5 separate regions of the Homo sapiens genome follow, and all the other regions are linked to region 1. Evidence: fine-mapped expression QTL. A gene starts in region 1. Each other region holds a variant in brackets. All regions are shown on one strand. Distances are between the middles of the regions.

The links.
Region 2: its variant is fine-mapped to the expression of EPHB4 in monocytes after interferon gamma (Fairfax 2014, PIP 0.95).
Region 3: its variant is fine-mapped to the expression of EPHB4 in whole blood (INTERVAL, PIP above 0.99).
Region 4: its variant is fine-mapped to the expression of EPHB4 in whole blood (INTERVAL, PIP 0.96).
Region 5: its variant is fine-mapped to the expression of EPHB4 in blood mononuclear cells (TOPMed, PIP 0.99).

Annotation. Positions count from the first base shown.
Region 1 is chr7:100,824,576-100,829,673 of GRCh38, reverse strand. It overlaps EPHB4 (EPH receptor B4), which reads left to right and starts at 2,151. Exons shown (of 17, transcript NM_004444.5): 1 at 2,151-2,695. The coding sequence starts at 2,644. It also overlaps a transcript of SLC12A9 not described here. RefSeq lists enhancers at 1-555, 1,352-2,147.
Region 2 is chr7:100,697,991-100,703,090 of GRCh38, reverse strand. No RefSeq gene overlaps it. Among named protein-coding and RNA genes, the nearest start is that of POP7, 5.6 kb to the left of the region's middle. The variant C/TC (reference allele first, on the strand shown) is at 2,550.
Region 3 is chr7:100,847,100-100,852,195 of GRCh38, reverse strand. The region is part of intron 1 of SLC12A9-AS1 (SLC12A9 antisense RNA 1); the gene reads left to right. It also overlaps a transcript of SLC12A9 not described here. Among named protein-coding and RNA genes, the nearest start is that of SLC12A9-AS1, 3.0 kb to the left of the region's middle. RefSeq lists an enhancer at 67-266. The variant AAAAAGAAAG/G (reference allele first, on the strand shown) is at 1,932.
Region 4 is chr7:100,746,945-100,752,044 of GRCh38, reverse strand. It overlaps ZAN (zonadhesin), which reads right to left. Exons shown (of 48, transcript NM_003386.3): 9 at 4,404-4,495; 10 at 3,830-3,908; 11 at 3,575-3,721; 12 at 1,149-1,420; 13 at 779-863; 14 at 1-333. Among named protein-coding and RNA genes, the nearest start is that of ZAN, 16 kb to the right of the region's middle. The variant G/A (reference allele first, on the strand shown) is at 2,322.
Region 5 is chr7:100,802,939-100,808,023 of GRCh38, reverse strand. EPHB4 (EPH receptor B4) reads left to right here. Exons shown (of 17, transcript NM_004444.5): 13 at 444-659; 14 at 1,455-1,604; 15 at 2,330-2,523; 16 at 2,703-2,858; 17 at 4,434-5,085. The coding sequence ends at 4,563. Among named protein-coding and RNA genes, the nearest start is that of EPHB4, 22 kb to the left of the region's middle. RefSeq lists enhancers at 746-1,945, 1,866-2,581, 2,582-3,297. The variant G/A (reference allele first, on the strand shown) is at 3,104.

The DNA.
Region 1 (5,098 bases):
GGAGAGGGTTGCAGAGAACCCCGAGGGAGAAGCTGAATAAGAGAAGGGGAGACTGGGCCTGCATCGGGGAGGGAGGAGGGAATTCCCAGCTCCAGCCTGGTCTGCCTGGCTCCAGTGAAGCCGGCTGTTTCCTGCCCTCGGTGACCGGCCCACCCCCCCCAACCCGGGCGCAGGACCCAGGCAGAACAGCAAGGAAGGGCAGGGGTGTGGGGAACACCTCTTGCAGCAGGAAGATAAGTAAGCCGGGACAAGAGGTTATCACAGGCCCGGCTGTCCTTTCTGGGACGTAAGGGCGCTTGGCAGCCCCCCAAGCATCCTGGACTCCAACGTCTCTCTTGCTGGGCTCCAACGTCTCTCTTGCTGGGCTCCTCAAGATTCTGTCCTCCGGCTGGGCGCGGTGGCTAACGTCTGTAATCCCAGCACTTTGGGAGGCCAAGGTGGGTGGATCACTTTAGGTCAGGAGTTCGAGACCAGCCTGGCCAACATGGCGAAACCCTGTCTCTACTAAAAATACGAAAACTAGCCGGGGTTGGTGCCCTGTGCCTGTAATCCCAGCTACTCGGGAGGCTGAGGCAGGAGAATCGCTTGAACCTGGGAGGCGGAGGTTGCAGTGAGCCCAGATCACGCCACTGCACTCCAGCCTGGGAAATAGAGGGAGACTCTGTCTCAAAAAAAAAAAAAAAATCTGTCCCCGCTAATTACTGTGGGAGTCTAAGTCCTTTCCTTCTGCCCCTTGGAGGGGCTGACTCCTGGAGCAGCACCCCCTCCAATCCATCTATCCAGTAACCCATACTGTTAAGTTCCCTGAAGTAGAAGGGGGTTGGTGGGAGGAGCACGGCTGTGCTGGACCCTCCCCGCTAACTGATGGGAGGGTGAGGGGAGTTGGCAGTGAGAGGAAGGGCCCCTCCCAGCCATCCCGAGGGCCCCCAGGAGCCAGACAGGAAACAGCTCAGGAAAGACAGCAGCCGCAGCCGCAGCCCCAGCCTCAGGGGTCATGGCTGCGGGCGGCGGGGAAGCCCCCCCAAAACACGAGAGTGAGAGTGAGAAGGGCGATTTGGAGATCTAGCCGGACCCCTCACCCTCTCGGACACACCCACCTTTTTTTTTTTTTTTTTTTTTTTTGAGATTTCGTCTCACTCTGTAGCCCAGGCTGGAGTGCAGTGGCGCGATCTCAGCTCCCAGCTCACTGCAACCTCCGCCTCCTAGGTCCCGGTTCAAGCAATTCTCCTGCCTCAGCCTCCCGAGTAGCTAGGATTACAGGCGCGCGCCACCATGCCCAGCTAATTTTTGTATTTTTAGTAGAGACGGGGTTTCATCATGTTGGCCAGGCTGGTCTTGAACTCCTGACCTCAAATGATCCGCCTGCCTCTGCCTCCCAAAATGCTGGGACTACAGGCGTGAGCCACCGCGCCCGCCACACCCACCTTTTCTTTACCGTTGTTTCCTCGATTTTTCTCTACTCCCTAGCGCAGCTTAGTGCGCGCCTCCTCTGGACATTTTTCAGGGCTTGGTTGCGCGCACAGTAGGTCCCCAACACTGAATGTTTATGGGGTGACTGTGTGAACGTTCGCTGCAAGGCTATCCAAACTGGGATTGCTCCTTGAGGCCCCCTGGGCGGCCGTCAATTCTCCAAAGCTTCTACTCCCTTTTCCTTCCTTTTCCCCCAAAACGCAGTCCCTGCGCCCACTAGAGGGTGGTGGGCGCATCCAAGAGCGGCATCTAGAGTCCGCAGCAAGGTCAGAGCGGGCTTTGTGTGCGCGGTGAACATTTACGTGCACGCCTGGGCGGCCCTCCGTGTTGCTGCTGGGTGTGTGTTTTCTCTGCTCCCTGGTGCCAGCCGGGTTCGGGCCTGTCCCGGGGGTCCCTGGGCCCCAGCCCCGACATGCTCGGTCCTGGACAGCGCGCACCGCCACGGCGCACATCTGGGCGGTCCCGGGGTTCCTCACCCGCCGCCCCTCCCCCTTCTCCAAACTTTCTCTCAACTTCCCGACCTGCTCCACTCGGTGCCCCTCTCCGCTTCCCTCATGAATTATTCAGTAGCGTGAGCTCCAATCAGCGCGCCCGGGGCTCACTCGCGGAGCCCCCGCGTTGGGAGAGCTGCCCCCGCCCCCCGCGCGCCCCTCCCTCCCGGGCCCGGCGCCGCCCGGCCCAGTTCCAGCGCAGCTCAGCCCCTGCCCGGCCCGGCCCGCCCGGCTCCGCGCCGCAGTCTCCCTCCCTCCCGCTCCGTCCCCGCTCGGGCTCCCACCATCCCCGCCCGCGAGGAGAGCACTCGGCCCGGCGGCGCGAGCAGAGCCACTCCAGGGAGGGGGGGAGACCGCGAGCGGCCGGCTCAGCCCCCGCCACCCGGGGCGGGACCCCGAGGCCCCGGAGGGACCCCAACTCCAGCCACGTCTTGCTGCGCGCCCGCCCGGCGCGGCCACTGCCAGCACGCTCCGGGCCCGCCGCCCGCGCGCGCGGCACAGACGCGGGGCCACACTTGGCGCCGCCGCCCGGTGCCCCGCACGCTCGCATGGGCCCGCGCTGAGGGCCCCGACGAGGAGTCCCGCGCGGAGTATCGGCGTCCACCCGCCCAGGGAGAGTCAGACCTGGGGGGGCGAGGGCCCCCCAAACTCAGTTCGGATCCTACCCGAGTGAGGCGGCGCCATGGAGCTCCGGGTGCTGCTCTGCTGGGCTTCGTTGGCCGCAGCTTTGGAAGGTGAGTTTCCTTGCGGGGGGGGGCGCACCCCGTCACTCCTGGGACCTCCCCCCCAACATCTGGGCCTCGGAGTGGAGGGGCCGGCCTCTGACTACCCCTACCCGGGCACTGCAGTCCCAAACACTTCGGACCGATAGTGCTGGAACGGGAGGGGGGCGGGGAAGAGGCGCCCGACGGGTAGTGGAGTTTTCTTTTGTTTGGGAAAGAGATGGAGTCTGGCTACGACCCGGGACATTCCCCTGCCCGGGCTCCCCGAACTCTCACTGCTGATTACATACGCCCCTGGCTGCCTTTCCTTTCCTCCCTACCCCACTATTCAAAACTATCTGCAAAGTTTCTGTCCCAGTCCCACCTCCCGCCGTACATGAGGGAAGGTTTCTGGAGAAGCAACAGCAGACAAGGCACAACTTTTCGTGCTAGGCCCTAAAACGACCCCCAGCGCCAATTCCTTAGCGATCACACCTTGATCCTCCAGTTCCACACTCCTGCAACAGGATGGCCTCCTTTGCATTCACACAGCAAACCCCCAAACCGCTCTCCCGCCCACTGCTCCTGCCCCTGGTATAGGGTGGCTCCTTGGTTTCTACAGGCTGCACCCCATCCCTTTAAATGCGGTCTAGACCCCGGCCCCAGGTGAGTCCCGGGCTTCCCTTGAGACCTAGGAGCGGGTAGAAACTGACCTACACAGCCCCCAGGTAGAAACTGACCTACACAGCCCCCACATCGCCCTAACTAACCCAGTCTATCTCCCACCTCCTGGTCTCTCCAAGCATTTCTTTGGCCATGGATCGCTGTCCCTCCTGGTCCCCTAAAGGGGGAGCCAAGAGCCCTAGAAACTCTCCTGTGTCCCTAATGTCCTTTCAGTGAGCTGCCAACACCCCCCTTTCTCTGTCTGGTATGAAAGTGGTTATGGGGCGGTAGGCTATGAGGGACTCCCAAAGGGAAGGATTCAGCGGCGTTAGAAAAACCCTCTCCCCCTGGCTGGGCAGGACTGCCCTGGGCTGGGGATCAAAGGCTAGGTGTGGGGTTGGGAGTGAGGGGAGGCTTGCCCAGCTCAGAGAACGGAGAAGGGGGAACAAAAACCATGAACGAGGGGAAGAGGAAGGCCAAAGGGGTGGAAAAACCACGAGGACGAGGTGTGGTGAGAAGGAAAGACGCAAAGAGGAAATGGTGATTGTGACACCTATTACCTGAGTGTTTCCAAGCACCAGGCCTGTGCTGAGCGCCTTACAAATATTAATTTCACCCATCCAGCAACGCTAAGGGTGGTGCTATTATTGCCCCCATTTTTCAGATGAGGAGGCTGGGGCTTAGTTAAGGTTAAGTAGTTTATCCAAGGCCCTGTGCCGCGAGGAACAGCGAGAAGTGGAGGCCGAAAGCGAAGGAGAGATAGTGACTGTCAGAAAGAGAAACGGAGGTGGACAGAGAGTGGAGGAGAGATAGGTGAGAGACATGCGAACTGACAGATCAAAGCGTGGCTGCAGCTGAGCTGGGACGCAGAAAGGGAGCCTGCGCTTGCTCTGGGCTGCGGACAGCCCGAGGCAGAGACAGTGTGTAAATTGGAGACAGGAAAACACTATCCCGGCTGGAACAATGGAGGGTGGAGACGGCAGCCTCTATCCACCCCCTTCCCAGAACCCGGGCATCCTGTCCCCAGTGAGCAGGGCTGTCTCTTGCCACCCATGGGGACCTTGCGCCTCTCACCTCAGGCTGGCTGGCTTCCCATCTGACCCCTAGCTGGAGGACATCATTTGGTCCCCAGGAAGAGGCTGCCTCACCCACCCTCTTTCTCTTCTCTCCTGCAGCTCCCATGGGGTGGGAGCCAGGTGTTCTGGCTCCCCTCTCCACCCTTCCCAGCGCCCAATGCCCCCCACATTGCCGGCCCCCGAGGGGATTCCTGTACCCTCCCTCCTCCACTCTCCACTGCCAGGGGCTGTGCAGTTTTTCCTAATCCCCCCCCTTCCTCCAGTGCCTGTCCCCTCCCCCGATGATCCGAGCCAAGCCAGGTGTGTTCACCCCTCCCATTCATACCGCCCCCCAGAATCTCCTCCCCTCTGCCTTCCCATAACCAAATCCAGATGTGAGGCCTCGGCGGGAGCCTGGGAACCCTAGCATCCCGACCTCCAGTGCTTCCTGATCAGGGCACTCGTGGGGAGGGAGGTACTGGGATGGGGGCCAGGGCTATGCCCCAGGCACGGAGCGCTCCCTTCAAGGAGGGAAGGACGGGGTGTTTGGTCTGAAAGCAGAGAGGGGTCTTGGACAGGGAATGAAATTGTGGGGTAGAGAGGCTGATTCTGGGACTTAGGGGAGGAAACGTGGAGGCTGAGACAAGAGGTTCCCCTCCCACACCAGCAGCCTCTGCTCGTGGGGGTCAGGACCAGGGCGCAGCTCTCATTTTAACCC
Region 2 (5,100 bases), 130 kb after region 1:
CCTAGGCAACAGAGCGAACTCCGTCTCAAACAACAACAACAAAAACCCAAATTGATCTATAGGCGTAATGCAATTCCTACAAAAATCCCAGCAGTTTTTTTGTATTAAATATAGATGTTTATTCTAAACTTTATATGGAAAGGCAAAAGAAGTAGAATAGTTAAAACCACTTTGAAAAAGTTGTTGGAATCACACTACCTGATTTTAAGACTTACTATATAAATAAAGTTATCAAGAAAGTATGGTTTCCCCAGTGGGATAGACACAAAAATCAATAAGATGGAATTGAGAGCTCAGAAATAGATTCACACAAGTGCAGCCAACTATCTCTCTTTAAAAAATAATTTTTTGTTTGTTTATAAGACAGTGTCTCACTTTGTCACCCAGGCTTGGAGTGCAGTGGCACAATCTTGGCTCACTGCAGCCTCAACCTCATGGGCTCAAGTCATCTTCCCGCCTCAGCCTCCCAAGTAGTTGGGACTATCAGCACGCGCCACCATACCCGGCTAATTTTGTTTTATTTTTTGTAGAGACGAGGTCTTACTACGTTGACCAGGCTGATCTCGAACTCCTAGACTCAAGCAATCCTCCTGCCTCAGCTCCCTCAAAGTGCTGAGATTACAGGCGTGAGCCACTGCCAAACAACTTGTTTTTGACAAAGGTATAAAAGCGTTTCAATGGGGAAAGGATGATCCTTTCAAGTGGTGGTGAAACAATTGGACAAATAGGCAAAGAAATGAGCCTCAGCCCTATGCAAAAAGTTAATACAAAATGGATAGTAGATTTAGGAAAAAACTTCATGGTGTAGGGTCAGGTGAAGAGTTTTGTTTTTTTGTTTGTTTGTTTTTTTGAGATGGAGTCTCACTCTGTCGCCCAAGCTGGAGTGCAGTGGCGCGATCTCGGCTCACTTCAACCTCTGCCTCCCGGGTTTAAGAGATTCTCCTGCCTTAGCCTCCTGAGTAGCTGGGATTACAGGCACATGCCACCATGCCCAGCTAAAGGCGAAGAGTTCTTAGACATGACTCCAAAAGCACAATCCATAAAAGAAAAACAATTGGGCTGGGCACGGTGGCTTATGCCTGTAATCCCAGCACTTTGGGAAGCTGAGGTGGGTGGATCACCTGAGGTTAGGAGTTCAAGACCAGCCTGGCCAACATGGTGAAACCCCGTCTCTACTAAAAATACAAAAAATTAGCCGGGCGTGGTGGCATGCGCCTGTTATCCCAGCTACTCAGGAGGCTGAGGCAGGAGAATCGCTTGAATCCGGGAGGCGGAGGTTGCAGTGAGCTGAGATTGCGCCATTGCACTCCAGCTTGGGCACCAAGAGTAAAACTCCGTCTCAAAAAAAAAAAATGATAAATTGGACTTCATCAAAATGTTTAAACATTTGCTGTGTGAAAGATCACATTAATAAGATGAAAAGAGTAGCCACAGACTGGAAGAAAATATTTGCAAATCATATATCCAACAAAGGACTTGTTTCCAGCATATATAAAGCACTCTCTAAGCTCGAGAGGTAGAAACCGAACAACCCAATTAGAAAATGGGCAAATCCAGCCTGGGCAACATGGTGAGATCCTGTCTCTACAAAAAATTTAAAAATTAGCCAGGCCTGGTGGTCTGTGCCTACAGTCCTAGCTACTCAGGAGGCTGGGGTAGGAGGATTGCTTGAGCCCAGGAGGACAGCACTGCAATGAACTGTGATCATACCACTGCACTCCAGCCTGGGTGACAAAGTGAGGGTCTGAGAAAGAAAGAGAGAGGAAGGAAAGGAAGAAAAAGGGAAGGAAGGAAGGAAGAGAGGAGAGAAAGAGAGAAAGAAAAAACAGAAAAAAGGAAGGAAGGAGGGAGGGAAGGAAGGAAGCAAGCAAGCAAGCAAGCGGTGGCTCTTGCCTGTAATCCCAGCACTTTGGGAAGCTGAGGTGGGTGGATCACCTGAAGTTGGGAGTTTGAGACCAGCCTGGCCAACACGGTGAAACCCCGTCTCCACTAAAAATACAAAAATTAGCTGGGCGTGGTGGCGGGCGCCTGTTAATCCCATCTACTCGGGAAGCTGAGACTTGAAAATCGCTTAAACTTGGAAGGCAGAGGTTGCAGTGAGCCAGGATCACACTATTGTACTCCAGCCTGGGCGACAGAGCAAGACTGTCTCAAAAAAAAAAAAAAAAGAAAAGAAAAAGAAAATGGGCAAATCTTAAACGGACATTTCAGTGAAAGAGAGTATAAGAATGGTAAATAAGCACATCATAAGATGTTCAATATCACTAGCCATTAAGGAAATACACATGAAAACCATGACGAGCTACCAATAACACGTATTGAAATGGCTGAAATACAAAATACGAACAATACCAAGTGTGGATGAGAATGCAGGGAAACTGGATCTCTCATACATACACTGCTTGTGGAAGTGGAAAATCGTACAGCCATCCTAGAAAACAGTTTGGCAGTTCCTTCTAAAATTAAACGTACACTTACCAAATGACCCAGCAAGAACATTTCTTGGCATTTAAAAATCTGTACATGAACATCCATAGCATTTTTTTTTT[C/TC]TTTTTTTTTTTTTGAGATGGAGTCTTAATCTGTCACTCAGGCTGGAGTGCACTGGTGCAATCTCAGCTCACTGCAACTGCTGCCTCCCAGATTTAAGCAATTCTCCTGCCTCAGCCTCCCGAGTAGCTGGGATTACACATGCATGCCACCACGCTCAGCTACATTTTTTTGTATTTTTAGTAGAGACGGGGTTTCACTATCTTGGCCAGGCTGGTCTTGAACTTCTGACCTGTGATCCACCTGCCTCAGCCTCCCAAAGTGCTAGAATTACAGGCGTGAGCCACCGTGCCCAGCCCGTCCATAGCATTTTTATTTGTAATAGCCCAACGGGAAGCAACCCAGATGGCTTTCTTTTCATATTAATTTATTATGTAGAGATGGGGGTCTCCCTATGTTGCCCAGGCTGGTCTTGACCTCCTGTACTTAAGCAATCCTCCTGCCTCACCCTCCCAAAGCGCTGGGATTGCAGGTATGAGCCACCGACCTCCGGATAACTTTTGATCAGTGCATGGTAAACAATCTATGGCACATCCATCCCATGGAATATTACACAGCTATAAGGGATGGATCAAGGTGACCTGTTAGGCTGCGAACATACCAGTTATATTACATAATACTGTGCTGAACTGCTCATATTGTAGTGTGCAAGACAAGGTGAGCATGATCGCATGACCTGTGCTGAGGGGACATGAATAGGATTGGGTGGATCCCCAAGGAGAGACAGCCAATATCATCTTGAGGGATCCAAGGTTTTCCAAGAGGAAGTAATGATTAGGCAGAGACAGGAATGTTTAGCAGTAGGTCCTATATCCTGTTCCCTTTTTTTTGAGACAGGGTCTGGCTCTGCCACCCAGGCTGGAGTGCAGTGGCTTGATCTCCACTTACTGCAACCTCCGCCTCCCTGGCTTAAGCAATCCTCCCACCTCAGCCTCCTGAGTAGCTGGGACTACATGTGTGCACTGCCACGCCCGGATAATTTTTGTATTTTTTGTAGAGATGGGGTTTTGTCATGTTGTGCAGGCTGCTCTTGAACTCCTGGGCTCAAGCGATCCTCCCGCCTCAGCCTTTCCCAAAGTGCTGGGATTACAGATGTGAGCCACTGTGCCCGACCCATATCCTGTTCCAATACGGAGGTCTGAGCCCTGGGAGGATGGGGAGAAGAGGAGGAACCAGTAAAATCTGAGAAATAGCAGCTAGTGAGGTGGGAGGAAAACCAACAGAATATAGCATCCAGAAAGCCAGGTGAAGATGGTATTTCTGGAGGGAGTGACCGTCTATGTCACTGGCTGGTAACAGGTCATGTAAGATAATGGACCAGTAGATTTCACAATGTGGAAGTCATTGGTGACTTACAACGCAGTTACGTTTGGTTGAGCAAAGAACTTAGCGCAGGGCCAAAAGTAATTCTGAATGCAGTAAATTAATTTTAACGCCCATTATGTCTGATAATTAACAATAAGCACAGTTTATGAGCTATCACTCCATTACTCAGGTCATGTGTCTTTCCATGGTACCTAAAATATGTTTTGCAAACTCTGATATCCACATAAATATCAAGGCTCGCAATTTAGGTGGATGAAGACAAGCTCTGTAATAAACCGATTTGACAATAAACTGATCTGACAACAAGACAGTCCTTATCTCCTTGCATGCATTTCTTTTTTTTTTGAGACGGGGTCTCGCCCTGTCTCTCAGGCTGGAGTGCAGTGGCCCAATCTCAGCTCACTGCAACCTCCACCTCCAAGGTTCAAGTGATTCTCCTGCCTCAGCCTCCCGAGTAGCTGGGATTACAGGCGCCTGCCACCACGCAGGCTAATTTTTGTATTTTTAGTAGAGACGGGGGTTTCACCATGTTGGCCAGGCTGGTCTTGAACTCCTGAGCTCATGATCCACCTGCCTCGGTCTCCCAAAGTGCTGGGATTACAGGCGTGAGCCACCGCATCCAGCCCTCTCCTTACATTTCATCAAAGGAAAACACTGAAGAGGAATCTGCCATTAAAAAAAAAAAAGTGGGGGCGGGGCGGGCGTGGTGGCTCATGCCTGTAATTCCAGCACTTTAAGAGGCCAAGGCAGGTGGATCACGAGGTCAGGGGATCGAGACCATCCTGGCTAACACGGTGAAACCCCGTCTCTACTAGAAATACAAAAAATTGGCCAGGCGTGGTGGTGGGTGCCTGTAGTCCCAGCTACTCGGGAGGCTGAGGCAGAAGAATGGCATGAACCCGGGAGGCGGAGCTTGCAGTGAGCCAAGATCGTGCCACTGCACTACAGCCTGGGCATCAGAGGGAGACTCCGTTTCAAAGAAAAGAAAGAAAGAAAAAGGGCCAGGAACGGTGGTTCACGCCTGTAATCTCAGCACTTTGGAAGGCTGAGGCAGGCAGATCACCTGAGGTCAGGAGTTTGAGATCAGCCTGACCAACATGGCAAAACCCATCTCTACTAAAAATACAAGACGCTTGAACCCGGAGGAGCGGAGGTTGCACCACTGCACTCCAGCCTGAGCAACACAGCAAGACTCTGTCTCAAAAAAAAAAAAAAAAAAAAGAAAAG
Region 3 (5,096 bases), 23 kb before region 1:
GCCGCCGATCTGGGCCCAGGGTCGCTTTGCACCGTCTGATGCCCGCTTTCTTGCCTCCCTGCAGTGTTCTCACTTCCAGCAGAAATCCTAGAGCCTATGAACTCTACTGAGAGCTGAGACTCCTTCTTCACTCTTTACAGATCCCATGAACAGCAGTACCACCTGCCAACGCGTCCTCATATGTAAAATGGGCATAAACTCGAACCTCCCTCCTAAGGCTGTGAGTTCAGTGAGCATTTAATGGGCACTTTAGAACAACGCCTAAAGGTTTGATAAATTATCCCTTGCAAATAGCACTGCATTAAATTAGCCACTCTGTGAGGTAGGTACCGCTATTTCAATTTTTCAGATTAGGAAATTGGAGCTTGGAAAGTTTCAGATACATTTCCTTTTTTTTTTTTTTTTTTTTTTGATCCAGGAACTATTACACAGGCTGGAGTGCAGTGGCGCGATCTCGTGTCACTACAACCTCTGCATTTCCGGCTCAAGCATCCTCCTGCCTCAGCCTCCGCAGTGCCTGGAACTACACAGGCACACACCACGCCTGGCTAATTTTTAAATATTTTGTAGAGACCGGGTTTCGCCATGTTGCCCAGGCCTCTCTGGAACTCCTGAACTCAAGCATGCGCCTGCAGTCCCAGCTACTTAGGAGGCTGAGGCAGGAGGATCGCTTGAACCTGGGAGGCAGAGGTTGCAGTGAGCTGAGATCGCACCACTGCACTCCAGCCAGGGCAACAGAACGAGACTCTGTCTCAAAAAAAAAAAAAAAACTTTTTCAGGGTCAGTTAGTTATAAGCACTCCCTTGGCATACCCTGGCCTGTCCGTCACTGAACTCTGCTTCCATAAATCTCAACCTCCACCTTACCTTGTTAGTCTGTGGTTTTGCCTTGGACCTTGTCTTCATCAATGACTGCAGCCCCTCCTCTTCAGTTCACCTCTTCTACTGCGCTTATTAAAGAAAAAAATCTGACTCTTGTTAAAACAGTAAGTCAGACTTTATTCAGGACTATTTTGATTGGCACCAAGAAGGTGGCAAGGAGCTGGGTGCAGTGGGTCACGCCTGTAATCTCAGGACTTTGGAAGGCTGAGGCAGGAGGATCACTTGAGCCCAAGAGCTCCAGACCAGCCTGGGCAATAAAGTGGGACCTCATCTCTACAAAATTTTTTTTAAAAATTGGGCCAGGCACGGTGGCTCACGCCTGTAATCCCAGCACTTTGGGAGGCCGAGGTGGGTGGATCACGAGGTCAGGAGATTGTGACCATCCTGGCCAACATGGTGATACCCCATCTCTACTAAAAATACAAAAATTAGTTGGGCGTGGTGGCACGCACCTGTAATCCCAGCTACTTGGGAGGCTGAGGCAGGAGAATAGCTTGAACACGGGAGGCGGAGGTTGTGGTGAGCTGAGATCTCGCCATTACACTCCAGCCTGGGCAACAAGAGCAAAACTCCATCTCAAAAAAAAAAAAAAGAAGAAGAAGAAGAAAAGAAAATTAACCAGGCATGGTGGTGCACGCCTGTTGTCTCAGCTACTCAGGAGGCTGAAACTGGAAGATCCCATGAGCCAAGGAGGTTGAGTGAGCTATGATAGTGCCAGTGCACTCCAGCCTGGGTGACAGAGTGAGACCCTGTCTCAAACAACAAAAAAGACTGTGGCAAGGTGTAGTAGCTTGCACCTGTAATCCCAGTACTTTGGGAGGCTGAGGCAGAAGGGTCATTTGAGGCCAGGAGTTCAAGACCAGCCTGGGCAACACAGAAGACACTGTCTCTAATTTTTTTTTAAAATCAGCTGGGCATGGTGGCCCATACCTGTAGTCCCAGCTACTCAGGAGGCTGAGGTGGGAGGATGGAGGCTGTGGTGAGCTATGATCCTATGGCTGCACACCCATCTGGGTGATAGAGCAAGACCTTATCTCAATAAAAAAAAAA[AAAAAGAAAG/G]AAAGAAAAGGAAGGAAGGAATGAAGGAAGGAAAGAAGGGAGGGAGGGAGGGAAGGAAAGAAGGGAGGGAGGGAAAAGAAGGAGGCTGGGCATTGTGGCTCACGCCTGTAATCCCAGCACTTTGGGAGGCCAAGGCAGGCAGATCACTTAAGGTCAGGAGTTCAAGACCAGCCTGGCCAAAATGGGGAAACCCTGTCTCTACTAAAAATACAAAAATTAGCCGGGCGTGGTGGCAGGCAACCGTAGTCCCAGCCACTCGGGAGGCTGACGTGGGAGAATCACTTGAACCTGGGATGCAGAGGTTGCAGTGAGCCAAGATCACACCATTGTACTCCAGCCTGGGTGACAGAGCGAGACTCTGACTCAAAAAAAAAAAAGGGAAGGGAAGATGTTGGGGAGAGAGAGAAGGGGCACAGTAGAAAGAGGGTAGGATGGATGAACTCGGGATCCAGTGAGGTAGAGAACTGTTGGGCTCAGGCCTGACAGAGACTTTCTCCTTGACTAAATTTTAGTCTTCTCTGGGTCCTCTTTTTTTTTTTTTAGACAGAGTCTCCGTCTGTTGCCCAAGGCTGTAGGGCAGTGGCGCGATCTCAGCTCACTGCACCCTCCGCATCCCAGGTTCAACTGATTCTCCTGCCTCAGCCTTGGAGTAGCTGGGATGACAGGTGTCTGCCACCATGCCTGGCTAGTTTTTGTATTTTTAGCAGAGACAGGGTTTCACCATGTTCTCCAGGCTGGTCTCAAACTGCTGCCCTCAGTTGATCCACCCACCTCAGCCTCCCAAAGTGCTGGGATTACAGGTGTGAGCCACCGCACCCGCCCTGGGTCCTCTTCTTGACTGGGTCTCAATGTTGTGTTCCACTCCCTCCACATCCCACTGCCTTGCCAGGCCTGCCTAGCCCAGTTTAGAGTGAATCTGGGAGGTTGAGGGTGCAGTGAGCTGTGATCGCACCACTGCACTCCAACCTGGTTGACAGAGCAAGACCCCACTTAAAAAAGACATTTAAGCTAGGTAAGAAGGGAAGTGAAGGCTGGGCACGGTGGCTCACACCTGTAATCCCAGCACTTTGGGAGGCCGAAGCAGGAGGATCACTTGAGGTCAGGAGTTCAAGACCAGCCTGGCCATCATGGTGAAACCCCATCTCTACTAAAAATACAAAAATTAGCTGGGCCTGGTGGTACACGCCTGTAATTCCAGCTACTCGGGAGGTTCAGGCACTCCCACCTAGGCGACAGAGCAAGAGTCCATCTCAAAAAAAAAAAAACAAAAAACTAACCAAACAAAAAAACTCTCCTTATATTAGTTGTCTATCCTAGCTCTTTCTTTCTTTCTTTCTTTCTTTCTTTTCTTTCTTTCTTTCCTTTTTTTTGAGATGGAGTCTAGCTCTGTCACCCAGGCTGGAGTGCAGTGGCACGATCTCGGCTCACTGCAAGCTCTGCCTCCCAGGTTGAAGCGATTCTCCTGCCTCAGCCTCCCAAGTAGCTGGGACTACAGGCTCCCGCCACCACGCACGGCTAATTTTTTGTATTTTTAGTGGAGACGGGGTTTCACCGTGTTAGCCAGAATGGTCTCGATCTCCTGACCTCGTGATCCGCCCGCCTTGGCCTCCCAAAGTGCTGGAATTACAGGCGTGAACCACTGCGCCCAACCTCTTTTCAACATTTATACCCAGTCCCTTCACGATCTCATCCAGTCTCATAGTTCTATTTTTTCTGTATTTATTTATTATTTATTTATTTATTTATTTATTTATTTTTGAGACTTGGTCTCACTCTGTCGCCTAGGCTGGAGTACAGTGGCACCATCATAGCTCACAGCAACCTCTATCTCCCAGGCTCAAGCAATCCTCCTGCCTCAGCCTCCTGAGTAGCTATAGGCACATGCACCCATGCCTGGCTAATTTTTTATATTTTGTAGAGACAGGTTCTCACTATGTTGCCCAGGCTGGTCTTGAACTGTTGGGCTCAAGTAATCTTCCCACCTCAGCCTCCCAAAATGCTGGGATTACAGACATGAGCCACCGCACCCGGCCCAATCTGTTTTAATACCATCTATATGATAGTGCCTCCAAGGGTGTACCTCTAGCCCAGACCTCTACTCTGAACTTCAGGCTGTATAGCCAACAATCTACTACCATCTTTTTCTATTTTTTTTTTTTTTTTTTTTTTTTTGAGATGGAGTCACTCTGTCGCCCAGGCTGCAGTGCAGTGGTGAGAGCTCTGCTCACTGCAACTTCCACCTCCCGGGTTCAAGCGATTCTCCTGCCTCCGCCTCTCAAGTAGCTGGGATTACAGGCACGTGCCACCATGCCTGGCTCATTTTTGTATTTTTAGTAGTGATGGGGTTTCGCCATGTTGGCCAGGCTGGTCTTGAACTCCTGACCTCACGTGATCCGCCCACCTTGGCCTCCCACAGTGTTAGGATTACAGGCGTGAGCCATGGCACCCGGCTCTACTACCATCTCTGCTTGGACATCAAATGGGCAACTCAAGCTTGGTATGTCCAAAACTAAATACTCAAACTCCCACCACCTGCTCCTCCTGTGGTCCTCTCAGGCCGGAAACCTGGGGTTACACCGGAATACTCTCACATCCAACATCCACACCATAGACAATTCCTTTGGCCTCCACTTTCAAGTTATAACCAGTCTGCAACCACATTTTACCACCCAAGTCCAAGCCACCATCACCTCTTCCGCTTTCACAATAGCCTCCTAACTGGTTTTCCCACTTCTGCACTTGTCCCAAAATCTATTCTCAGCTGAGCAGCTAGAGGGGTGCTGTTTAGGTAAACATCCATTCCCGATGGGTGCCACCTTTCATAATTCTCCAATGACATGCCTTTCTCCTCAAAGCAAAAGCCAAAGGCCACATCTGTAAATATGATGGCCTGACTCACCAACTACAGTCCTGCTGTATGCCTGATGCCTTGACTTCAATATTAACAGCATCTCCCGGCTGGGCGCGGTGGCTCACGCCTGTACTCCCACCATTTGGGGAGGCCAAGGCGGGTGGATCACTTGAGGTCAGGCGTTTAGGACCAGCCTGGCCAACATTGTATTTCCATTAATGTAGCAGGACGAGCCGCAGACAAAACTCCTCAGACACTGAGTTAAAGAAGGAAGGGGTTTATTCGGCCGGGGGCATCGGCAAGAC
Region 4 (5,100 bases), 78 kb after region 1:
GTTTTTCTGAGGGAATGGTGGGTTTTTCTGAGGGAATGGTGGGTTTTTCTGTGAGGATGGTGGGTTTTTCTGAGGGAATGGTGGGTTTTTCTGAGGGCATGTTGGGTTTTTCTGAAGGAATGGTGGGTTTTTCTGTGGAGATGGTGGGTTTTTCTGTGGGAATGGTGGGCTTTTCTTTGGGGACTGTGGGCTTTTCTGTGGTGACACTGGGTTTTTCTATGGAAACTGTAGGTTTCTTGGTGGAGATTGTAGGGTTTTCTGTGAGGCCAGTGGTTTCAGAAGGGCCAGTGGAAGAAACTGGAGATACGGGAGGAAGCTCTGGTAGCACTTTTACTGCAAAGAAAAATAAGAATCCCTGGAGTTTAGTCAAAACCATACCACCACCCTCTTTACTGCCATCTAACTGGAGTGGGCTCCCATGGGTGGCTTATTCACACCTCTCTTTCTACTCCCAAACCCCAACCTTCATCCACTCAACGAACACTAATATATGTCAGATATTATGCCAGAAATGAATAGGATATGGGTCCAGCCTTCAAGACTGCAGAGGAAGGAGTTCTGGATCCAGCCCCCAAAATCCATGGTATCGAAGCCACATTCACCCAGGCAAACATCTTGAAGTGCAGGGGAAGGAGAGGTGTGTTGAAGATGGAAAACAAAGCCAGCTGGGTGAGAATTCGGGCTCCAGGGAGGACTCACATTTTAAGCAGTTCATAGAGAGAACTCCAGGGAACCTCAGGGCACCGCCCCCTTCCTGGAGCCTGGGCTTTGGTCTTACCTGGACAAGTCCCAGGATTGATCAAGATGAAACCCATAGCAACCACAGAGGCCGTGTTGCTTCCCTGGATGCCCTTGAAAATAAGCTAAAGGCGACAAGGGAGAGAGACGGAGAGAGAAACAAAAATGAATCTCCAGCAACTCTGTGATTCCACTGGGCATAGAATCTGTTCTCTGCCAAAATGTCGCCTTGTTCCAGCCTCAACAGTCCAGCCCCATCCCGGCCCCTTTCTCACTTTCTGTAACACGAAGTTCCCCTTTTCTCGGCTCTCTTTCCAGCTTTCCACCTCTTCAGCACTGGTGGCGCCCCCAGATCCCAGGCATTGGCCCTCTCACCTCACACAGACAGGACCCCCGCCTCCGTCTCTCACCTGCATGGGCTGTTGGTGTCCTGAGGGGACGGTGACGGAGGTGTTCTGCCAGTAAGGGCGCTGAGACCCCACGCGTTTCCAGAGAGGAATCGGGGGACTCCCCGCAGGACTTCCCAGGAGGAGTTCGAGCATAGTACCCTCCCCAAGGCCATACATGTGGTATGCGAACTCCACGCAGATGTCACCTGGGGCGCAGAAGGGCCGGCTCACCAGTCTGACTGACTGGCCTGCCTGGGAGAACTCGTCAGCCTCAAGGTAGATATAGTGACCCCCTAGGCAAAGGAAGGGAACAGGCAAGGTAAGAAGCCTGCACAGGACATGCCAACTGCTGCTTTAGCAAAGCTTTGCTTTCTGAACGGGAATCTGAGCAAACACTCAAATTTCCCAGGTCGTAGCATTATTTTTTCTGCTCATTTTAGACATCTAACTAAAGAAGGTGGGATCACAAAGAAAGGGAAAAGCGGCCAGGCACGGTGGCTCATGCCTGTAATCCCAGCACTTTGGGAGGCCGAGGCTGGCGGATCACGAGGTCAAGAGATCAAGGCCATCCTGGCCAACATGGTGAAACCCCGTCTCCACTAAAAATACAAAAATTAGCTGGGCGTGGTGGCCCGTGCCTGGAGTCCCAGCTACTCGGGAGTCTGAGGCAGGAGAATTGCTTGAACTCCGGAGGTGGAGGTTGCAGTGAGCCAAGATCACGTCACTGCACTCCAGCCTGGCAACAGAGCAAGACTCCATCTCAAAAAAGAAAAAAAGGGAATAACAAACCAGCAACCTAGATTACATTCATTAATGTCGTGTGTGTGTGTGTGTGTGTGTGTGTGTGTGTGTGTGTGTTGTTTTTTTGAGATGGAGTCTCGCTCTGTTGCCCAGGCTGGAGTGCAGTGACACGATCTCAGCTCACTACAACCTCCACCTCCCAGGTTCAAGCGATTGTCCTGCCTCAGCCTCCCAAGTAGCTGGGATTACAGGTGTGTACCACCATGTCTGGCTAATTTTTGTGTTTTTAGTAGAGGTGGGGTTTCACCATGTTGGCCAGGCTAGTCTTGAACTTTCGGCCTCAAGTGATCCACCCGTCTCAGCCTCCCAAAGCATTGGGATTACAGGTGTGAGCCACTGCACCCCACCCTCATTATTGTCTTTTTAAAAAATTATTTCTTTATATATATATAT[G/A]TGTGTGTGTGTATATATATATGTGTGTATATATATGTGTGTGTGTGTATATATATATATATATATATATATTTTTTTTTTTTTGAGACGGAGTCTCACTCTGTCACCCAGGCTGGAGTACAATGGCGTGATCTCGGCTCACTGCAAGCTCTGCCTCCCGGGCTCACGCCATTCTCCTGCCTCAGCCTCCCGAGTAGCTGGGACTACAGGCGCCCACCACCATGCCTGGCTAATTTTTTGTGTTTTTAGTAGGGACGGGGTTTCACCGTGTTAGCCAGGATGGTCTCGATCTCCTGACCTTGTGATCCGCCCTCCTTGGCCTCCCAAAGTGCTGGGATTACAGGTGTGAGCCACTGCGCCCAGCCTCTTTTTATATATTTTTAAGACAGAATCTTACTCTGTTGCCCCGGATGGAGTGCAGTGGTGCGATCTCAGCTCACTGCAGTCTCCACCTCCTGGGGTCAGGCAGTTCTCCTGCCTCAGCCTCCTGAGTAGCTGGGACTACAGGTGCACGCCACCACTCCCGGCTAATTTTTACATTTTTTTTAGTGGAGTCAGGGTTTCACTATGTTGCCCAGCTGGTCTCGAACTCCTGACCTCAAGTGATCCACCTGCCTCGGCCTCCCAAAGTGCTGGAATTAAAGGCGTGAGCCACCATGCCTGGCCTATTTTTTTATTTTTAATTTTTAGAGACAAGGTCTTGCTCTGTTGCCCAGGCTGGAGTGCACTGGTTCAATCATAGCTCACTGCAGCCTTGACTTCTGAGCTGAAGCGATCCTCCCACATCAGCCTCGCAAGTAGGTGGGACCACAAGCACACACCACCACATCTAGCTAATTAAAAAAAAATTTTTTTTTCTAGAGATGGGGTTCTCACTATGTTGCCCAGGCTGAGCTCAGACTCCTGGGCTCAAGCAATCTTCCCGTCTCGGCCTCTCAAAGTGCTGGAATTGCAGGCATGAGCCACTCATAAACGTCTAGACTGAAAATGAGGTGGTGGGTTTTGAAGCTTTGGGCTCCATGAAGTGAGATGCCTGGGTTTTCTCAGGATTTCAGTGACCCCCCAGCCCTGAGAATCTTTAAGTTACTCTGCTATCTCCACAATTCCAGTACCATGGAAACTTCCGAAAAAACACCTGTGGACTGATCTTCCCACTGCCTGAAACAACGTCTCCCATCAGTCACAGCAGCCAGCCTGCTACCTGGGAGCAGACTGAGTGATTTCTTGGCGTGAGCGCTCCTCAATCTCCTCACCTGCATTAGGGAAACCTCCCGCAGGGCCCATGCCATGGACGGGTCCATTTTTATGTCCGAGGGCCCAGTGTCCACCATCCCCGGAAGTCTGGACCCAGTCACAGAAGGGATGGGCGTTGTCTTCAAAGTCACACTGAGGAAAACCCTCTGGGGGATCAAAATAGGATATTTGAGCAAGTTGAGTGACGCTCTCCAGCCCTCCCCCAGCCCACCCCGGATTCTGAGAGATCCGGGCCTCTCAGGGCCTGCTCTCACCCCCACAAGGAGCAATGCTGGTTGCATCAACTGCCACAGCTGGCTCTGGGGTCTTTCCAAAAACGCCTACCACGGCAAACTGGAGAGAAAGGGAGATGGAGCAGGAGTGAGCACACAGCCCACACCCCCAAGCCCCTGATCTAACTCGACTCCATTCCAGGACCCAGAATCCCTACTCCCTGTGCCCAGACCCTCAATTCAGTTCTTTCTTTCTTTTTTTTTTTTTTTCAGAGTCTTGCTCTATTGCCCAGGCTGGAGTACAGTGGTGTGATCATAGCTCACTGCAGCCTTGACCTCCAGGGCTCAAGTGATCCTCCCACCTCAGGCTCCCTAGTAGCTGGGACTACAGGCACACATCACTGTGCCCGCCTAATTTTTGTATTTTTTTGTAGAGATGGGGTCTTTCTATGTTGCCCAGGCTGGTCTTGAACTCCTGTCCTGAAGCGATCCTCCCTCCTCAGCCTCCCAAAGTATTGGGAATACAGGCATGAGCCACAGCACCAGGCCCCTCAATTTATTTCAACATTGGGTGTGCCTACCATGTGCAAGGACCTGACCCCTTGCTTCTCTGTACCTGTATCCGTCCCACGGCTGTGTAATTGACAGAAACAGCCTGCCAGTTGGGCCCAGGTTGTCCTGAGAAGAGAGTGTGTTTCCGGATACTCCCTGCAGTGAAAGGAATTGGAAGGAGAAGTGAGCTTAAGGGGACTGGGAAACGACTTTGAACTATACCTAGGAGGATGAGGAGCAGAGGGCATAGCTGGGGACGATTACCACCAAATGAAAGCACAATCTTCTTTTTTATTTTATTTATTCATTATTTTTTTTTGAGATGGAGTATTGCTCTGTTGCCCAGGCTGGAGTGCAGTGGCACTATCTTGGCTCACTGCAACTTCTGTCTCCCAGGTTCAAGCGATTCTCCTGCCTCAGCCTCTTGAGTAGCTGAGATTACAGGCGTGTGCCACCACACCTGGCTAATTTTTGTATTTTTAGTAGAGACAAGGTTTCTCTATGTTGGCCAGGCTGGTCTCGAACTCCTGACCTCAGGTGATCCACCAGCCTCACCCTCCCAACGTGCTAGGATTACAAGCATAAGCCACTGTGCCAGGCCAGCACAACTTTCTTTTTTATTTGAGAGGGAGTCTTGCTCTGTCACCAGGCCGGAGTGCAGTGGCGCGATCTCGGCTCACTGCAACCTCCGCCTCCCGGGTTCAAGCGATTCTCCTGCCTCAGCCTCCCGTGTAGCTGGGACTACAGGCAGCTAATTTTTG
Region 5 (5,085 bases), 22 kb after region 1:
GAAGGCTCACCTGAGGGAGTTGGGGGGCTTGCCCTACAGGTGAGTTGTGAGGTGGGTCTGGAAGTGACAGATGCAGTTTAGGAAGTGGACGGGAGGCTGGGTACGGTGACTCAACATCTGTAATCCCAGTGCTTTGGGAGACCCAGGCGGAAGGATCGCTTCAGGCCAGGAGTTAAAGACCAGCCTGGGCAACATAGTGGGAACCTATCTCTACTAAAAATTAAAAAATTATCCAGGCATAATGGCACATGCCTATTGTTCCAGCTACTCAGGAGGCTTGCCTGAGCCCAGGAGGTTGAGGCTGCAGTGAGCTATGATGGCACCACTGCACTCCAGCCTGGGCGACAGAACAAGACCCTGTCTCTAAAAAAAAAAGATGTGGATGGGAGGGGGAACGGTGGGTGGGCTGTCCTCACCAAGCCCCCACCCTATCTGCTCTCCAGCTAAACGACGGACAGTTCACAGTCATCCAGCTCGTGGGCATGCTGCGGGGCATCGCCTCGGGCATGCGGTACCTTGCCGAGATGAGCTACGTCCACCGAGACCTGGCTGCTCGCAACATCCTAGTCAACAGCAACCTCGTCTGCAAAGTGTCTGACTTTGGCCTTTCCCGATTCCTGGAGGAGAACTCTTCCGATCCCACCTACACGAGCTCCCTGGTAATGCTGGGGGTAATACTGGGTGTGAGCTTCTTAGGGCCAGGTGGGCAGGGCAGGTTGGAAAGGTGGGAGGCTGAGGGTTTGGCAGCCCTGCTCCAGGGAGAGGATACAGGAGCAGGCTGTGGGTGGGGGGACAGTCAGCTCCAGGAAGCCGACTTCCAGATGTCTAGGAAAATAACAGTTGGATAACCTGGGCAACATAGCAAGACCCCATCTCTACAAAAAAATTAAAAGATTAGCCAGGCGCAGTGGCATGCACCTGTAGTCCCAGCTACTTGGGAGGTTGAGGCAGGAGGATTGCTTAAGCCCAGGAGTTGGAGGCTGCAGTGAGCTATGAATGTGCCACTGTACTGCAGACTGGGCGACAGAGCAAGACCCTGTCTCAAAAGAACAGTGGCCAGGTGTGGTGGCTCACGCCTGTAAATCCAGCACTTTGGGAGGCTGAGGCAGGAGGATCGCCTGAGGTCAGGAGTTCGAGACCAGCCTGGCCAACATGGGAAAACCCTGTCGCTACTAAAAATACAAAATTAGCTGAGGGTGGTGGTACACGCCTGTAATCCGAGCTACTCAGGAGGCTGAGGTAGGAGAACCAGTTGAACCCGGGAGGCGGAGTTTCAGTGAGCCAAGATCGCACCACTGCACTCCAACCTGGGCAAACAGAGTTGGAGAGTAGGAGGCTTGGGGCCTGAGCTAGGGGGAAAAAGCAGAGGCAGGTGGGGGACTGGGGGGCAGTGTGCTGGGTCTGGTGAGTCCCTCAGTGAGTCCCCCAGCTCACCTTTTCTCCTTTTTCTGCAGGGAGGAAAGATTCCCATCCGATGGACTGCCCCGGAGGCCATTGCCTTCCGGAAGTTCACTTCCGCCAGTGATGCCTGGAGTTACGGGATTGTGATGTGGGAGGTGATGTCATTTGGGGAGAGGCCGTACTGGGACATGAGCAATCAGGACGTAAGTGTCCCGTGGTCCTACCAAGCTTTCCTCGAGTGTTCTCTCACCTGGGATTTGGGGTGAAGGGTGGGTTCCCAGAGAGTCATCACTGCTGGGTTCTTGAGACCATGGAGATGACAAAAAGGAGAATTGATCTTTGTATCAAAGAGTTGAGATACAGGGCCAGGCCTAGTGGCTCAAGCCTGTAATCCCAGCACTTTGGGAGGCCAAGGTGGGCAGATCACCTAAGGTTAGGAGTTCAAGACCAGCCTGGCCAACATGGTGAAACCCCGTCTCTAAAAAAATACAAAAAATTAGCCCAGCATGATGGGCGGGTGCCTGTAATCCCAGCTACTCAGGAGGCTGAGACAGGATAATCGCTTGAACCCAGGAACAGAGGTTGCAGTGAGCTGAGATCACGCCATTGCTTTCCAGCCTGGGCAACTGAGCGAGACTCTGTCTTAATAAATAAATAAAAGAGTTGGGTACAGCATATTTGGGTCGCAGAAGGATGCAGAGATGGAGGGCAGGGTTGAGAGGTAACATGTCTGTATCATAGCCCAAGAGCTGCTGGGGCCTTCAGCCACAGAGAGCTTCAACTCCGGCTAGGAGGATTCCTGGATCTGTTATTTTTTGGGGGGCTGTGGCTCCTATCCTACCATCTTCCAAGTCACCATTTCCTGGGCCTGTTAGCATCTTTGCTTTTCCTGGACAGCCTCACCCAGAGCTTCTTCCCCTCTTTCCAGGTGATCAATGCCATTGAACAGGACTACCGGCTGCCCCCGCCCCCAGACTGTCCCACCTCCCTCCACCAGCTCATGCTGGACTGTTGGCAGAAAGACCGGAATGCCCGGCCCCGCTTCCCCCAGGTGGTCAGCGCCCTGGACAAGATGATCCGGAACCCCGCCAGCCTCAAAATCGTGGCCCGGGAGAATGGCGGGTGAGGACTGCAGAGAATGGGCCCTCCTTCCCGCTCTCTGCCCCCACTCCTTGCCCAGAAGTGTCCGTTCATTGGTGTTGGGTGGGAGGGCCTCTGTCCGCCTCTGCAAGGCTGGGTTCCACCTCCTCCCCCGGACCTGGGCCTGGTACTCAGCATTCCTCCCCATCCTTGCCCCCTAGGGCCTCACACCCTCTCCTGGACCAGCGGCAGCCTCACTACTCAGCTTTTGGCTCTGTGGGCGAGTGGCTTCGGGCCATCAAAATGGGAAGATACGAAGAAAGTTTCGCAGCCGCTGGCTTTGGCTCCTTCGAGCTGGTCAGCCAGATCTCTGCTGAGTAAGCAGTGGCAGGAGCTGGAGTGGGGCTGGGAGAGCGGGGCAGCTGGAGTCAGGCCCACGGGGTCTCCAGGGGCTTTTGGGGTCAGCTTCGGGTGCCAATGCTGTCTTCTTGCACTGCGCTCATGCCATGCCTAGAAGGGCCCCAGAGGAGCAGTCACAGCCCCATGGAGCTGAGGACCCAAGGACTCTTTGGGGCCAGCCTGCCCGCCTCACCTCCTCCTGCCATCACAGCCCTGGGCCATC[G/A]CGCTTCCGCCTCTCACTTCTAGCTATCTTTGTGCATCTATCTGCATTCCAGGCCCGGCTCTCACGGTAACAATGTGTCAACTCGGGTTCTCTTTTTCCAACCATAAAAGGAGAAGATTGGGCTAGGTTTTGGAGATCCTCTTCAGCTTTTATGTGAAATGGTTTTATGATTCCTTGCCTCCCAAAGGCTGCGTATCCCCACTTGGCCTTTGTCTGCTACTCCCCCTTTCTGCCTTCCCGTTCCTCTCCCAAGATCTCCTCTCACCCCAGGTTGAATAACAGAAATAGAAGGAATAGAAATCTGAAGGCCGGGCATGGTGGCTCATGCCTGTAATGCCAGCACTTTGGGAGGCCGAGGTGGGCAGATCACTTGAGGTTAGGAGTTCGAGACCATTGTGGACAACTTGGTGAAACCTTATGTCTACTAAAAATACAAAAATTAGCTGGGCATGGTGGTGCGTGCCTGTAATACCAGCTACTGAGGAGGCTGAGGCAGGAGAATCGCTTGAACCCGGGAGGTGGAGGTTGCAGTGAGCCGAGATCGCACCACTGCACTCCAGCCTGGATGACAGAGTGAAATTCCATCTCAAAAAAAAAAAAAAAAAAAAAAAAGAAATGTGAAGGCCAGGTGGTGGCTCACGCCTGTAATCTCAGCACTTTGGGAGGCTCAGGTGGACCGATTGCTTGAGCCCAGGAGTTTGAGAGCAGCCTGGCCAAAATAGCAAAACCCCATCTCTACAAAACAAAAACAAAAAAATTAGCTGGGCATGGTGGTGCGTGCCTGTGGTCCCAGCTACTCAGGAGGCTAGAGCCAGAGGGTCTCAGGCCAGTCTGCCCCTGCCCCACGGGGCCTGGGCACATCCCTCCCTAATTCTTCCCAGCCTCTCTCTGACCCAGGGGGCCTCCTCTCCCTTTTTTCCCCTTATCTCAGCCTCCAGCCATCAGCAACCTCCTCTTCCTCTCCACCCAGCTCTTCCTCTCCCACTTCGGCCTTTTCTTTCTCACACTCCATTTCCCTCTACGGCAATCTGTGCAGCCTCTTCCCCCAGTCTCATTTTGCGGGCTTTTCTCTCTTTTCTTTCCTTCCCTGGCACCCAAGCCAAAGGCCCTGCCTCTGGCCTCCAGCCCTACCCCCTTCTGCGGTTGCACAGAAGGATGGCTGCCCAGCTCTTAAAAAAACTGCCCGGGAACTGTTGACATCTGTTCTCCCTCCCCCGCTGGCTTTTCTGATTGGCTTACAATCCTGAGGCTAGGACCGTCTCAGGAGCCAAGAGAGGAGAGCGGCCACAGGGAACCTAGGGTCTCACCAAGCTCTCCTTTCCTTCTGCAGGGACCTGCTCCGAATCGGAGTCACTCTGGCGGGACACCAGAAGAAAATCTTGGCCAGTGTCCAGCACATGAAGTCCCAGGCCAAGCCGGGAACCCCGGGTGGGACAGGAGGACCGGCCCCGCAGTACTGACCTGCAGGAACTCCCCACCCCAGGGACACCGCCTCCCCATTTTCCGGGGCAGAGTGGGGACTCACAGAGGCCCCCAGCCCTGTGCCCCGCTGGATTGCACTTTGAGCCCGTGGGGTGAGGAGTTGGCAATTTGGAGAGACAGGATTTGGGGGTTCTGCCATAATAGGAGGGGAAAATCACCCCCCAGCCACCTCGGGGAACTCCAGACCAAGGGTGAGGGCGCCTTTCCCTCAGGACTGGGTGTGACCAGAGGAAAAGGAAGTGCCCAACATCTCCCAGCCTCCCCAGGTGCCCCCCTCACCTTGATGGGTGCGTTCCCGCAGACCAAAGAGAGTGTGACTCCCTTGCCAGCTCCAGAGTGGGGGGGCTGTCCCAGGGGGCAAGAAGGGGTGTCAGGGCCCAGTGACAAAATCATTGGGGTTTGTAGTCCCAACTTGCTGCTGTCACCACCAAACTCAATCATTTTTTTCCCTTGTAAATGCCCCTCCCCCAGCTGCTGCCTTCATATTGAAGGTTTTTGAG